2 separate regions of the Homo sapiens genome follow, and region 1 is linked to region 2. The links come from fine-mapping of genetic effects on gene expression. A gene starts in region 2. The other region holds a variant in brackets. All regions are shown on one strand. Distances are from middle to middle.

Region 1 (8,334 bases), 150 kb before region 2:
GGGACGTCTACTTTCCATCGGGGTAAGTACACATCACAGATGACTACTCAAGGGATGCAGTAGATTCAGTAGGGTCCTCCGAAAAGATGTGTCAGGTCACCAGTACCTGTGAATGGGACCTTATAGGGTCGTTGCAGATGTACTTAGGTTAAGGATCTCAATATGAGATTATCCTGGATTTAGGGCAATTCCAACATCCAACAAGTATGAGTATCCTTATAAGAGAAAGGAGAGGGACACTTAAGATGCAGGAAAAAAAAACAAACATTAAAATGCATGAGAGAACCTGAAAAAAATACCCTCTTGTCCACTTTAGTTATAGACATGTGTTCGTCTTGATCAAAAGAAACACTGAATATCTTTTTGGTTGACCAATTAGAAAATGCTTTTTACACTCATCATAAATATTTTTTACAAATTACTAAAACAATACATGTTCATTTTAAAAATATTTAAAATATAGCTAAGCAACTTGGCATTTTTACAAAATGTTTACATACAATACATAAAATTTTGTGAACTGTTTCACTTAGCATATTGTGCATAATTTTCTATGTTGTTACATATAATCTTTTACATATAAAGAATAAATAATTTAAATGGCTTTTTTTTTTTTTTTTGAGACAGGGTGGCACTCTGTCACCCAGGCTGAAGTGCAGTGGTGCGATCTTGGCTCCCTGCAGCCTCCACCTTCCAAGTTCATGCGATCCTCCCACCTCAGCCTCCCTAGTAGCTGAGACCACAGGTGCACACCACAAAGCCTGGCTAATTTTTGTATTTTTTGTAGAGAGGGGTTTCGCCATGTTGCCCAGGGCTGGTCTCGAACTCCTGAGCTCAAGCGATCCACTCACCTTGGCCTCCCAAAGTGCTGGGATTACAGGAATGAGCCACCACACCCAGCTAAATGGCTTTAAAAACAGATGCAGACACAAGGGAGAAAGCCATGTGCAGGCAAATGTGGAGACTGAAGAATGCAGCCATGAGCCAAAAACACCAAAGAGTCACCAGAAACTAGGAGAGAAATGTGGCGTGGGTTCTCCAGACACAGAGAAAGGATCTTACAGAGAAGAAAAGATTATGACAGGGAAACTTATCTGCCAAATAATATTAGTAGCTAAGATTTCTGAGCTCTTATATACCAGGCAATATTCTAAGCAGATTACATGTATTGCATCTTTATTTTATTTTATTTTTTTAATTTTGAGCTCTTGCTACATTATCCAGGCTGGTCTCAAACTCTTGGGGCTCAAGGGATCCACCCACCTCAGCCTCCTGAGTAGCTGAGACTAAAGGCACCCTGCTTTTGCTAGGCCCATTTTGCAGGAGGCAAAACTGAGGCTCATTAAGAGAAAGTCACATGTGGAAAGTCATACAGCTAGTAGTAGTAAAACTGAGGCTCAGTTCAAACCTGACTCCAAGATTTCTACTCAGAACCAATGAGCCATGTGCCTCTGCTCTGCAGATACAGGGATGGGGGAAGATGATACAAAGAGCACCAGAAGTGGATGCAGGGATCCTGCACCCCCCTGCCCAAAGGACCTCAGCACATGTGGTGGTCGGTCACTTAGGACCTTGATTTTCCCATCTGGTAATCGGAGCAAAGAATCCCTCTCCTACCTATCCTGCTGGATCATTGTAAAGGTAAAGAAGCAGGTTATAAATGTGGAAAGCAGGCTGGGCATGGTGGCACATGCCTGTAATCCCAGCACTTTGGGAGGCTAAGGCAGGCAGATCACTTGAGGTCAGCAGTTTGAGACCAGCCTGGCCCACATGGCGAAACCCTAGCTCTACTAAAAATACAAAAATTAGCCAGGCACGGTGGCCCATGCCTGTAGTCCCGGCTACTCAGGAGGCTGAGGCAGGAGAATCACTTGAATCCAGGAGGCAGAGGTTGCAGTGAGCCAAGATCACGCCACTGCACTCCAGCCTGGGTGACACAGCGAGACTCTATCGCGAAAAGAAATAATAATAAATGAATGAATGTGTAAAGCAGAGCATTGGCAATAGAAGCAGGAAGTTCCTGGGGCTGCTGTCACCTGAGTCCTAGGGGAGCATGCCCGTGCCTGCCCAGGGAGGGTCATGGGCTGCCCAGAACAAGGAGGCCCGCTACAGAGTCCCTTCACATGGGAGCTGCACCACACCCACTTCAAAGCAGGCAGGCTCAAGACCCAGGAAACCCAGCACACATCAGACCCTGGCCACCACTGGACAAGCCTAGCCTTGGGGCCACGCCTTCACATCCCGTTGCAGCATGGTCAACGTGGGCGGGCTGGGTTTCCTGGGCCCCAGCCGAGCAACCAGGAAGCAGAGGTTCAAAGAGGAGAAGTGACAGGCCTGTAGTCTCACAGCGACAGAGAGGCAGAGCTGGGTTTAGAACCCAAGACTCCCAACTCCACGCTGCATTTCAGCCAGGCTGACAGCTCAGCTTTCCTTCGCAACGCATGGGAAACACAGATGGATCCTGAAATAATAAGAGTGACGCTGGTAATAATATCCGCTAACCACCATCTAGCACTTATGTACGAGACCTTGTTTTAGCACTTACAGTTTTAGTAGAGATTAATAGCAGACATAGCATCATACTCACTGACCAGCCTGACCTAAATACTCAGCTTCAGCCAGGGAAGGAGCTGGCATTCAAGACAGGACCCTGTGTCAGCCACCTCCCTGTGTAGGGCGGGGCTGAGGTCAGCCCATGGGGGATAGGGGTGGAAATCCAGGCTAAGATGATGTGTGCACGTACCGACGTTATAGGTATTGAGGTCCAATATTCCTCTGCAAAGAGACCCTAAGGGATTGTCTTCAATAATCTGTGAAGAAACAAGACATAACTCACGTTAGTTGTAACGGGAATAATAAAAAGAAAACCCGTTTCCAAAGCACACCGTTTAGCAGAGATACTGCCTGTGGAACTGTTTAAAATGCATTTTCATTACCAGATACGTCCATGGGGAGAGAGCTAAATAATGAAGCATGGAGCTGATAGGGACCTGGCGGGGAGAGGGTGCCAGGAGGTTCGGAGTTTCATTTTCCAATCCGTAAAAACGTGCCTTGTGAATTCTAGAACAGGTTTCATAATGCTTCCTCAGATCTGGTTTCCAAACACATCCTAGACTATTTATCTGACCTTATTAGAAAATGAGACTATTTTGCCTACTAAAGCCCGGCTCAAGAACCTTCTGTG[G/C]CTCCCCATGTCCTGTGGAAGCAACACCCATGCTCTATGACCTGGCTTTTAAGACTTTCAGAGCCCCCATCACCCTTTCCAGCTCTGCCTCCCATTGCACCCTTGAACCATCCCAGGGTCTGGCTGAGATGAAGAATATCCTGGGCTTAGGAGAGGTGGCAGAACCAGGCATCCACTCCTTGCCTGCACCACCCCAAACCCCACCCCCTGCACCAGGTAAATGCTGATGTACAGGTAAGGGCAACTCAGTACAGAGGAAGCAAGGGCTTCCAGTCTCTGCCTCAGCCCAAGCACACGGAACACAACCACATTCCCACTGCCACACCTTTGCTTAGACTGTACCTCCCACTTGCACCTCTCTTCTGCCAGTCTCTTGCTGTTGAACTCTAACTTGACTTTTAAGGGTCAAATACTCCTTCCTCCAGGAAGCCTTCCCAGATTGCCCTACATCCCTTAGAAAATAAACACCTGGGGGTCTAACGGGATCTTAAAATCCTCATTACAAAGATATCATCCTTGGTGGAGTGCTAGCACGCTGAAAGTGGCTGCTCTCTAAACAAGAGGCGGCGAGGGAACAACCACCAGGTTTGCAAAGTCACCAGGAAGGCCTCATCTCACCTCTGGTTAGGCCCACTTGCTTACTCGCCCCAAGCACGTTCTCAATGTCTGGCTGTCCAATATAAATGTGTTTCATCTGCAAGTTGCTTAAGCAAAGGACAAATTCCCCATTTGGTCACTTTCACTCCAGCGGGAATTCTCCTGCATAATGAAATCCTTCCAAGCCCAACACAACCTGATTAAAACACGGCCGGCTTGTCACAGCAACTCACCCACAACAACTCAATCTCAATTTCCCTATCATCACTGTGTCTTCCCTGATCCAGAGCTCCACAGAGACCACAAGCAGCACATGGAAAAATTCACCCACTGAGATGGCACAGCTCCCTGAAAAACTGGACCTGCAGATCCCTTCTTCCTGTAAGAGGATCGAAGAGGGGGACTCACCTGCTTTTCTAGCTCCTCGAAGTCTGCAGTTGAGATGTCCTCGACGTAGTTGGATGGGAAGTACTGCTGGATCCTGGTTCCATAGTCTCCTTTCCACCTGGATAAGAAGAGAGGACATGGGGGCGCTGTCACCAGGTGGCATGAATTACCCACTACTGCTCATCTGCACCCGGCTGCTGGCTCAATTCTGATGGGGACAGACAGCAAGTGGCCAAGTGACCAGTGTCACTATCTGTGACAATGGAGCATCTCAAAGGCAACTGCTGTCTTTTTATTTTTTAATTACTAATGAGTTACTGGGGGCTGATTTTACCCCCATCACATGATCTTAATGTTTAATCAAAGATCACAAGTCAAAAGTTTCCATGCTTTACGTGGAAGTCAGAGACCATACAAGACAAAAGTTCACCCCTATTTCGGGGAGGTTGTGAATTTAGAGAGAAGGTGGTTCTGGAGGCAGACAGGCTGGAATTAAACTCCAGCTCTACCACTGACGGTGGAGGCTTTCTGTGCCTCCAACTCTCCATCTGAAAAATGCATAAACGTGAGTGCTTCCCTCAGAGGGTTTTATTAGGACTCTAAATTAACATAAGCTGAGTGCTTGGGACAGCGCCTACCTAGTACACAGTAAATACTCAATAGTGTTAGCTCTTATTATTATTCAGCTAAAACATTGTTCCCTATCTTTATAACAACACTAACAACACGGGACATAATCCATCTATGAATGTTCCTGGACCCCACCAGACGGTGAGCACCTCTAAGATTCCTCCCGGCAAGGCCGTGCCCAGACATGCAAACGCCCTCCTTCAACCTGCCCATCTCTTGAGCTATTTTCCGCAGCCAGGGACTCTCCAAAATGCACCTCTGACCACACCACATGATGGCTCCCCAGGGCCTCCAGAATCCAGCCCAGACTCTTCAACATGGCAGCCACGGCCCAGCACAGTCTGACCCCAGGACTCCCAGACATCACCTCCTAACTCTCCATGATGTTGACTCCAGCTGGCCCGTCGTCCCTATCATGCCCCTGCCATGCTGCCTAGCTTCCATGCCTTGGCCCATGCCCTTGGTACCCAACTTCCCCCCACTAATTTAAGACTCAGCTTGGGCATTTCCTCTCCCACGGAGTCTTCCCTGACTGCCCCCTAGGCTGAGCACTCTTCCTCTGTGGTCCCCTGGCATCCTGTCCCCACAGTCATCCAAGCAGCCACATCTTATACTTAACGTATAATTATACATCTGTCTTCCCCTCTATATGATATCCTTCTGGATTTTTTTTTTTTTTTTTTTGAGACAGAGTCTCACTCTGTCCCCCAGGCTGGAGTGCATGGCACGATCTCAGCTCACTGCAACCTTCGCCTCCCAGGTTCAAGCAATTCTCCTGCCTCAGCCCCGCCAGTAGCTGGGATTATGGCATGGGCCACCATGCCTGGCTAATTTTTGTATTTTTAGTAGAGACAGGGTTTTACCAGGTTGGCCAGGCTGGTCTCAAACTCCTGACCTCAAGTGAGCCACCCGCCTCGGCCTCCCAAAGTGCTGGGATTACAGGCGCAAGTCACTGCACCCGGCTGACCTTTCTGGATCTTAATCAAGTCTGTGCTCCGTGGTGGTGGGAAGAACTTAACAATTTTTTGGTCTGAATAAGCAGAGTGAGGACTGATGCTACCAATTCACCTAGCAGAGACACAGGACTGCGGGTTGTAAGCCCTTTTCACGCCCCCCCGCACCATTTCTCCAGACCCACTTCTGGCAAGGGCTGGCTGTATTTACGGCGATCATATATACCATCTGTCCAGGACTGAGCACTTTACATTCTCTTCACTCTCAGGAGCATCTTGGTTCAGACAATAATTGTTTGGTCCCCTAGCTACAGGGAACCAGTTTGGAAGTATGCAAAAAAGCCGGTTTCACCCAGGCGGCCCCCTAGGTAGCACTACTGCCATCAGAGAGAGGAATTGACCACAGCCGCTGGGCGGTTTGCCCACAGTCCCTTGCCAAAGGGACTTCTGACAGTCTCTTAAGACAAGAGCCTTCGAAATTCAGAGAACTGCCTGTCAGAGGCATAGAAAGGCATGAGGCCATCTCACACAGAATGGAAAACCGTGATTTGGAGTAGTCACCTGGGCTCCAGCCACAACTCCAAAAATGTTGTTAGTCACCCACCCAGTGCGCACCAGGATGTTGACCAAGGCAGGGACAGGAGCCCAGTGAGGGAACGCCAGTGTGCCTGGAAGAGACCTCAACTCTGTGCCACTTCGAGTGGAGGGACTTCGGCAAAGCCGAGCCTCTGAACTGGGAGAAGCAGACGGACAACACTGTGGTTGCCCAACTGGGTCTGGGAGCCTCCAAGGGGAAGCATCAGAGGCTGCAGTAGGAACAGCAATGTCAGCAAGGAGGCCAAACAGGGCAATTCTACGCCCCCACTCCAGCTCAATGGGTAACTCGGCTGCATCTTTGATTCTGTGGAATCTAGGTATGAATTGGTTTGCAATGAGGTTCTCCTGATTTTAAGAAAAAGTTTGATAATCCCTGGATTAAGGCATCTTGCAAGAGGACAGGGAAGGACTTAGCAGATGAATGGAGTTAAGAGTGTAAGCTCTGGAGTCAAAAGGCCTGGCGGTTCAAATCTCAGCCTGCTATGTGGCCCTGGACAAGTGACTGCACTTCTGAAGGCTTCAGTTTCCTCATCGGTAAAATGCAGGTAACAACAGAACCAACCTTTTACAGTCATCATGTAGACTCAGTTATTTCAAATGAAGTGAGTTATTTCAAACGTGCTTAAAACAGTGCTTGACACATAGAAGCACTCCATGCATGCTGCTATTCAGATTCCTAAGCCAGGTCCAGTTATCTTGTGGGAGGCAGAAATGCCAGTCTATGAGGTGCTTAAACCAGTGCTCACTATTATGAGCAAGTTCTTATTGCTCTCAGACAGAAGTCACCCCACAAAACCACTTCCCCAGAAACCTATCAGTGGGCAGTGAATTTTTCTTCTAAGGTTAAAAAGCGAAGTGGTAACTAAACCCTAGCATACCCAGGTACCTTTGCACGAAAAACGTATTGTCTTCAATTCAGGATGTGGCCATTGCACACAGCACGGGACTATGGAACAGCATACGAATTTGAATTGGAAATAACACACAGTCTTGTGTATTGGAAAGCGCCTGCACTATTTAGTATTTAGTATTTATTTGTGTGACTTGGAAAGTCTCATTTGCCGCATCTTTTGTCACAGGGAGTAATGAAGATTTGGTTGAAGATTTGGTTAGACAATGCATGGAAAGCAATTAGCAGACTGCTTGCCACTTAGAAAGACTTCAATAAATGGTAGCTGCTGTTGTAATTATAATAATATACAATATATGATATGATATGTCGATACCTGTTAATATTGTTGTTTATCCATTTTCTCAAATAGAGCATGCACCAAGCCACCTTCCTAAGAAGGGACTTAACACAAGAGGTCAAAGCCAGCCCAGGATGACAAAGGGGGTCAGACTTGGCCAGCACCTGAGTCTTATCACCAAGAAGGGACAAGTCAAGCCCACCTGCCGAGCAGCCCAGCCTCCACTCAGCCTTACCAGCCCCCGGGCTCCTTGGAGACATTGTGGATGAGGGCACCACGGCAGAAGCTCAGCTCATCGCTTCGCTTGGCTTTGTAGTCATACAGAGCTTTCACGGTTCTCTGAGGCTTTCAGGGAAAACAAGAAGGAAAAGGTCAGGCCAGGGACAGGAGGGGAGGGAGGCGGCTGCGTTCCCAGGTACCATTTGGTTCTTCTCATTGGGGAGCAGGAGGCTTCAGGCCAAGGTTACAAAGTCATCTGCTGGAGAGGGACTGGCATTGCAAAGGATCGAAGGCCCCAAAAAGCCACCAGGGAGTGAAGGAGAACTGGCCTAGTCAGAGCCAAGGGTACCTGGGTTGGGGTTAAGGGTTAGGGGTTAGGAGTTAGGGTTTGGGGCTAGGGTTTAGCGCTGGGGTTAGGGTTAGGCTTAGGGTTAGGGTGGGAGTGACCCTATATTGTAGTGACACAATATTGCTCAATTTCCTCAACAAAGAAAGGACATGCCTTTTAGATTAAGCCAAGACTGTCATCACAGTGCCGGTGCTCAGCAAGCCTCCCAGAAGCTCAAGGGCAACCCCA
Region 2 (8,334 bases):
CTCAGCCATAAACACCAGACTTCCATGCTGCGTCTCACCAATTGCTTTGTAATAGCTGCTCACAGGTTGCCCTAAAGGAGCAGGGGTGGAATTTACACTCTCACCTGCAGTGGCTGACACCGTTCCTTTGAAAACACTGTATCCCCTCTGATGCTGCAGGGTGGGTGTAAGGTGCAGCAGTAATGTCCATTCAACTGTTGGAGGGGCCCTTACCACTCAAGTATTTGCCTGTGCCCCATTTTAACAGAATCGTTTTGTGGGATTTTGGATGAAATCCTGTACTGGCTTAACATGCACAGAGCACTGAAGAGAAAAACTTCCTTGATTTCTGGTTTGGGGTTCTTGTATCTCACGAAATGCCCTTCTAAATAAGCTTGTGAGATACAAGAACATGAATGAGCTTATGAGATGCAATTGGAAACAGATCTTCACGGCCAAAAGATCCCTGGAGTCCACCATTCAAATCCTGCCAGCACCCAGCTCAGGTCTCCAGCGTTCCACGCTTTATCAACTATGGCAGGGAGGTCTCCAAGACCTTGAGCCCAGGAGAGAGCACCAGCCACCACAGCAACTTCCATTTTGCTTCTGCTTTTTTTGGTTTTTTCAAAAAAAGAAAAAAAAAAGCCTTGAAATCCCTTTTTTGTTCCTGTTTCCCATTCTTAATGGGTAATTCTATAAAATGACTTATTTTGTAAATACAAATATGGCTGAGTTTGAATAACTGATTTTTGCCATTTTTACATTTCATGTCCTTCTAAAGGTTTTTCTTGTATCTCATAAGCTCATTCATGTTCTTGTATCTCATAAGCTTATTTAGAAAGGCATAAAATGGGCCAGGCACGGTGGCTTATGACTGTAATTCCAGCACTTTGGGAGGCCGAGGTGGGCGGATCATGAGGTCAGGAGATCAAGACCATCCTGGCTAACACGATGAAACCCCGTCTCTACTAAAAAAAAATACAAAACAATTAGCCGGGTGTGGTGGCACATGCCTGTAATCCCAGCTACTCGTGAGGCTGAGGCAGGAGAAAGGCGTGAACCCGGGAGGCGGAGCTTGCAGTGAGCCGAGATCGCGCCACTGCACTCCAGCCTGGGCGACAGAGCAAGACTCCGTCTCGGGGGCGGGCGGGGGGGGGGGGGGAAAGGACATGAAATGAGATGCGAGGACCCAAAACCAGAAATCAAGGAAGTTTTTGTCTCTTCAGTGCTCTGTGCATGGTAAGCCAGTACAGGATTTCATCCAAAAATCCCACAAGACAATTGTGTTAAAATGGAGCACAGGCAAATACTTGAGTGGTAAGGGCCCCTCCAACAGTTCAAGGGACATTACTGCTGCACCTTACACCCACCCTGCAGCATTAGAGGGAATACACTATTTTCAAAGGAATGGTGTCAGCCACTGCAAGTGAGAGTGTAAATTCCACCCCTGCTCCTTTAGGGCAACCTGTGAGCAGCTACTAAAAAGCAAAACACGCATATGCTTCGATCCTGCAATTGTACATGTAAAGAAAGACATGCACAAAGATGCAATATGTACGACAGAAAATCACGGAAGCAATAGTTGCAATAGAAATACAAAAAAAGAAAAAAAAACAGAAAACAACTGCTCATCAATGTGGGGGGCCTCCTGGATAAATAATGGTGCACATGCACTGAAGAACGCTCAGTAGCCATCAGAAAGAATGAGGATGATAGATAAGCAATTTGATCTGGAAAGATTTGTGAGGTCAATAAAAAAATAGCTTCAGACAATAGTTGCAACTGTATGAGTATAATACAATTCCCTTTTTATAAAGGTGATCTTCTGGTAAATCCAGGAGAGTGGTTACTATTTATCGGAGGCTGGGAGAGGGTAGAGGATACAACTTGACTTTATTTATATTAACTGATGATGTAACGGGCAAATTTTTCTCTTTGTGTTCTTGCTGTTTTCTAAATTAAGAAGTGTTTGTGTGTGTTTGTTTGTTTGTTTGTTTGTCTTGAGATGGAGTCTCTCTTGTCACCCAGGCTGGAGTGCAGTGGCATGATCTGGGTTCACTGCAACCTCCACCTCCTGGGTTCAAGTGATTCTCCTGCCTCAGCCTCCTGGGTAGCTGGGATTACAGGCGGCCACCACCACGCCCAGGTAATTTTTGTAGTTTTAGTAGAGATGGGGTTTCACCATGTTGGTGAGGCTGGTCTGGAACGCTTGACCTCAAGTGATCAGCCCAGCTCGGCCTCCCAAAGTGCTGGGATTACAGGTGTGAGCCACCGTGCCTGACCAAGAAATGTTTTCAAAAGTTTTCTCACCAGCAGCTTTTCATTGACTCTACCCAATGAGTGCAAAAGGGCTATTCATGGGGTCTGTGCTTTTCCACTTCCAGAGGAACTGCCCATACTCCAGTCGCTGGTGGGGGAAGGCAGCTGCATCATTAGGTGACTTAAACATCAGTGAGGCTCACAATGACGATTGTCCCTGAGCTGGTATACACGTGACTGCACACACACCTTTGCAAGAGAAACTGCTTGAGGCTGGCATAGACTTCAAAATTCTGTAAAACTTCCCCGCAGAACTGTAGTCAAGGACGAGGGCCCATGCCCCAGAGAATGCCCTTGAACCAGAGAGTCAGGAACTGCCCAAGGACTCTCCATGGATGCGCCCCGATTCTCAGCGAACCTCGTGGAACAGCAATAAGCCCCAATTCTCGACACAGCCCTGGAAAATTGGGTGGCTCCAGTATCCAGAGGGGGAAACAGACTCAAAAAGGTTCTTCAACTTGCCCAGGGTCCCACTGATGGAACTGAAATTCAAATTAAGTTCCGACGGGCAAGGCCACCTGTTTCCCTCGCGCCATGTCACCCCTTTACCACCCCGCCCCCCATAGTTTCTCACCCTAGTTCAAGATTAGGGTACCAAGAGAGCCCCGCCCCACCGTCCTGCTGGAATCCAGGAGCTCCCCGTCCAAACGGGGCACGTCTTTAACCTGAACTCTTGCGCTGTGCGGGTAATGCCCTCTTTGGGATTCCAAAACACAACAAAACACAACACGCACAGACACACGCATAATTACGCAGACAGCTGCGGAGCGGGCATCGCGAGTGTCCTGCAAGCTCTCCAAAAGTCTCCGGGAAGGACTGCGCCTCCCGCGGTATCGCTCCCACCCGCCACCCGCAACCACCGAAGTGAGACAGGGAAGTGTGGCTCCGAGCGTCCGCGAGCTCTGGGCACAAGGGCCGTCAAGAGAGACGGCGCCACCCCACGCAGAGCCGCTCGAAAAGAGGAGTTTTGAACGCCAGCCCCCACACGACCCCTGACCTTCCTCCCGGTCCCCATTCAAAGCTGGGGCCGCCCCACCGCACGGACCGGAGAGGTGGCGCCGGCCCGGGGTGAGGAAGTGGCCAGCGGCTGGGCCAGGATCCCTGCCGTCACCAAACGGACCCCGGGCACGGCGGGCCGGGGTCCCCGAGGGTGCGCCCCGTCCCTGCCCGCTCCGGCTGAGCCAGGACGCAGACCCCCTCGGACGCAGCGCCCTGGGAGCCGGTCCCCGCGGGGCGCAGGTCCCTGGGCGCCCTGCCTGCCTCGCTCCCGGCCGGGCAGCTCACCTGGCCGTGCCGCCCGGGCACAGCTGCCCGCCTGCCCCGGGTTTGGGCTCCGGGGTCCCGCGCGCGCAGCCCGCGTCCCGACTCGGGTCACTCAGCGCCGCTCACGCCCTCCGCCGCCGGCGCTCGCTACTTCTGCTTCGGCCGCGGCGCCGCGCCACGTGATCCTCGGGGGCCGCCCCCCGCACCGCCCAGCCTCGCCCCGCCTCGCCCCGCCCCAGGCGCGCCCAGCCGGGTCCGCCTCTCGGAGCGCACCCCGAGTGCAGCGTCCCCGCGCCCTCCCCGCCATGGAGCGGCCCAGGCCTGGAGCCCCGCCTCTGCGTGCCAAAGAAGAAACTGAGGCAACCCGAGGGGAGGCTACCTGCCCGAGGCCACTTGGCCAGGTGCAAAGGGAATTCCCCAATATCATGGCATTCCTGGAGAGCCGGCCGCAGTCCAGGTGTTTGCCGTATACTTAACACACTCCCGGCCGGGCGCCCGGGCTCACGCCTGTCATCCCAGCTCTTTGGGAAGCCTAGACGGGAGGATCGTCTGAGCTCGAGAGTTCGAGACAGCAATGAGCTAGGATGGGTGTGGCCGAGAGACACTCCGTCTCAAAAATAAATAAATAAAAATTAAAAATAAATATACTCTTCACAATTACCCGCCAGGAATTGCCAATTCATGGCCCTAATTTGAAGCCCTCGTTGAGGCTGCGCTGGAGTCAGACCAACCCTTACTGCTACCTTAGGCAGACCACTTAAAAACCGACAGCCTCAGTTTCCCCATCTGTAAAACGTGATCAACATAGTGCCAGCCCCAAAGGGAGTCAGGAGCAAAGAACCCCAGACAATTGATGTCCCGTTTTCCTGATCTCATGGGAAGAAGCTAATATGTTCTTTAAGAAATTTATTTTTCCGTTCGTGTGTTGCATGAAGCTATCTGATTCAAACCCTTCCTATGCTCTTTGATGGAGGTATCTTTGTTGTGACTAGAGGCAGTTTCAGGGGCACCTAGACAGCTGTCAGGCACTTGAATTTCACTTCCAAGTTGCTTGAGTTATAGCTTCTGTTTTCTAAGAGGCAGGGTCTCACTCTGTCACCCAGGCTGGAGTGCAGTGGTGCCATCATAGCTCACCACATCCTCGAACTCCGGGACTCAAGCGATCCTCCTGCTTCTGCCTCCTGAAGAGCTGGGACTATAGAGGCACACCACACTTGGCTAATTTTCTCTTTTTTCGACATGAGGTCTCACTATGTGTCCCAGGCTGTTCTTGAACTCCTGACCTCAAGCAATCCTCCTGCCTCTACCTCCCAAAGCACTGGGATCACAGGCATGTGCCACTGGTCTGTTATAGCGTTTTTTTTGTGTGTGTGTGTTTTTGGTTTTTTTTGTTTTTTTTTTTGTTTTTTTTTTGTTTTTTTTTTTTTTTGAGACAAAGTCTTGCTCTCTTGCCCAGGCTGGAGTGCAGTGGCACGATCTCGGCTCACTGCAACCTCCACCTCCCAGGTTTAAGCGATTCTCCTGCCTCAGCCTCCTGAGTAGCTGGGATTATAGGTGTATGCCATCATGCTTGGCTAATTTTTTGTATTTTTACTAGAGACGCGGTTTCACTATGTTGGCCAGATTGGTCTCAAACTCCTGACCTCAAGTGATCCACCCACCTTGGCCTCCCAAAGTGCTGGGATTACAGGCATGAGCCACTGCACCCGGCCTGTTATAGCGTTTTTTAATTGAGGAATATCACTCTCACTGTCAATGTTGTATCCCAAGCCATAGGACTCGTTTGTGACTTCACAAGATCTGTGGATTCATTTCTTTCAGCACTCCCAACTGGCGTGTATAGCTGTGCTCATCACCACAGATCACTTAACACATCAATTTTTTAAAGAGATCTTGGAAGGACTCATTATGACATCAACCACTTGAAGTCATTGGGCCAATTCCCCAGGAAAAATGACTACATCTAGGGGCAATTCCTTTGCCTCACTTTTTTTTTTTTTTTTTTTTTAGAACTTCAGCTTGTATTTATTTCAACCAATCTTTTTCACACTTTTGTTTTAGTATGTGTTATATAAAGTACATAATATATTAGTTCAGTCATATATATGTATAATTTATTATTACAAAGTCTACATGGATAGGGGAGTGGGTTAAGTCTCTTGATGGCAAAATGAGATTGCATATAATCAGAATGTGTGGAGACCACTCTAGGGAGCCGTGGCTCCTAAAAGCCTATCTTGACAGATGCCAATTCTGGCTGGATTTTTCTCTCATCTGTGGGAAGCAAGCAAAAAAATAAGAACATGAAGAACAGGTTTCTCTGTTTAATCTATGCCTGTGAGCCTATAGTATTTTTGAGTTAAAATGTCCACTGTGTGTGAGATAATGGTCATCGTAAATGGCAGTTTGCTTTTTTTTCTTTCATGTTTTTAATTCATTTTCTTCTTTGGCTCATTTTTTGCTAACCAACCCCTAGCCCAACCCCACCCCCCAGGTGAACGACTGAAGGAATCAGTGGATTGAAAGAGAGTACTGGAGGCCCTTCATCTCTTTCTCAAACTCTAACTTGGTTGTTCAAAATAAAAATAATCTGCCAGGTGCAGTGGCTCATACCTGTAATCCCAGCACTTTGGGAGGCCAAGGCAGGCGGCTTACCTGAGATCAGGAGTTCACGACTATCCTGGCCAACATGGTAAAACACCCTCTCTACTAAAAATACAAAAATTACCCAGGCATGGTGGCACACACCTGTAGTGTCAGCTACTCACGAGTCTGAGGTAGCAGAATCGTTTGAACCCAGAAGGCAGAGGTTGCAGTGAGCCAAGATGGTGCCACTGCACTCCAGCATAGGTGATAGATCAAGACTCCATCTCAGAATTAACAATCGTCGTCATCATCAAGGCGGCAGGCGCTGTTCTGGGAGGACTCTAATGTAAAATGACACTTCTTTTCCCAAGGATAATAGGTGGGGAAGGAACCATTCTGTGTATTCTTTCTTTTCCATGGAATAAAATAGGTAGGGAAAGAAACCACTCTGAGCCGGGCGCGGTGGCTCACGCCTGTAATCCCAGCACCCTGGGAGGCTGAGGCGGGCGGATCACGAGGTTGGAAGATCAAGACCATCCTGCTTAACATGGTGAAAACCCGTCTCTACTGAAAATACAAAAACATTAGCCTGGCCTGGTGGTGGGTGCCTATAATCCCACCTACTCAGGAGGCTGAGGCAGGAGAATGGCCTGAACCCAGGAGGTGGAGCTTGCAGTGAGCCGAGATTGTACCACTGCACTCTAGCCTGGGCAACAGAGTGAGACTCCGTCAAAAAAAACAAAAAAGAAAGAAGGAAAAAAAGAAAGAAAGAGAGAGAGAGAGAGAAAGAAACCACTCTGTGGGTTCAGACATATGAGGTAGAAAGGCCCTGTCACAGGTTAGCTGTCAGAGGGCTAGAGTGGGTTAAGTCAGTGGGTGGTGGGGGCTGGATTTGAACCTCAGCCTGTCTGGTGTCAGAGCCCATGGGCATGCTGACCTGCCACCCATCCCCAGATTAATAAGAGGCATTCAGGCAGGGAGATGTGAGTTTGTAACCACTCTACATAGATGCACAAATGGGTCAGGAAGTGACCTCAAAGGGTAGAGGGATCTTTCTTTTCCTTTTCCTACAAAAGAAAGAAAAAGGGAAGTGGATAGGTAAGAAAGAATAACCTGAAAGAAAATTACATTTTAAGCTGAATCATCTTGACTCTTTGTATTCTGTGTTGCTCACCAGTCCTTGGGCATACAAATGCTTTTCCCTATTACCCTCTTCTCTTTGCTGGCAGCCATGGTGCATTGGACCATTAGCCTCTCTGGGTATCAGTTTCCTCATTATTATACCTATGGGTATCAGAAATGTACCTACATCTGAGGGGGACTGTGAGATGAGGGAGGTAAAGCCCTCATCCCCATGGGGCAAAACCAAGGCTGACTATTTTAGGAATTGTTACTGGGAAGAAGAAGACCTCCTGTGAAAGCATGAACTTGGAAACAAGGAATCTGGGCTCCAGTTCCAAGTCTGCCCCTTCCTTAGTTTTATGGCTGTGGGCTGCTCAGCCACCCTCTTTGGACTTAATTTCCCCATCATAAGACCCACCTATAGCATATGCAGAATTAGCAAATCTACAGAGACAGAACGTAGATCAGTGGTTGCCAAGGACCAGGAAAGCAGAGAGCGGGCCTATCGGAAGGTAAAAGATAAGGGGTACAGGGCTGCTCTTTGGGATGATAAGAATGTTCTAAAATGGATTGTGACGATGGCTGCTCAGCTCTGTGAATGTGCTGAAGCCTCTGTACTGTACACTTTACATGCATGAGTTGCATGGGATGTGAATTATATCTCAAGAAAGCTGTTTTGAAAAATATCTGTGGACTGGGCACATTGGCTCATACCTGTAATCTCAGCTATTTGGGAGGCTAAGGAGGGTGGACCACTTGAGCCCAGGAGTTCAAGACTAGCCTGGACAACATGATGAGACCTCCATCTCTACAAAAAACTTTAAAAATTAGCCAGGCCTGGTGGAGTGAGCCTGAGTCACAGCTACTCGGGAAGCTGAGGCAAGAGGATCACTTAAGCCCAGGAGGCAGAGGTTGCAGGCAGTGAGCCGAGATCATGTGCCACTGCATTCCAGCCTGGGCAACAGAGTAAGACCCTGACCAAAAAAAAAAAAACACCCTTAGAGGGTTATTTCAAACCCAGACCTCCTTTCCCCTCCTCCACCACCACCTCCAAAGGCAGTGACC

What was found. PIP is the estimated chance that this variant, and not a neighbour inherited with it, causes the effect.
Region 1: its variant is fine-mapped to the expression of PLCG2 in whole blood (TOPMed, PIP above 0.99).

Annotation. Positions count from the first base shown.
Region 1 is chr16:81,923,034-81,931,367 of GRCh38, reverse strand. PLCG2 (phospholipase C gamma 2) reads right to left here. Exons shown (of 33, transcript NM_002661.5): 22 at 7,774-7,883; 23 at 4,190-4,286; 24 at 2,744-2,810. Among named protein-coding and RNA genes, the nearest start is that of SDR42E1, 84 kb to the left of the region's middle. The variant G/C (reference allele first, on the strand shown) is at 3,185.
Region 2 is chr16:81,774,673-81,783,006 of GRCh38, reverse strand. It overlaps PLCG2 (phospholipase C gamma 2), which reads right to left and starts at 3,716. Exons shown (of 33, transcript NM_002661.5): 1 at 3,583-3,716. It overlaps LOC105369213 (a long non-coding RNA gene), which reads right to left. Exons shown (of 4, transcript NR_189584.1): 4 at 5,654-5,835. RefSeq lists silencers at 3,411-3,490, 3,501-3,600, 3,631-3,900, 3,929-4,223.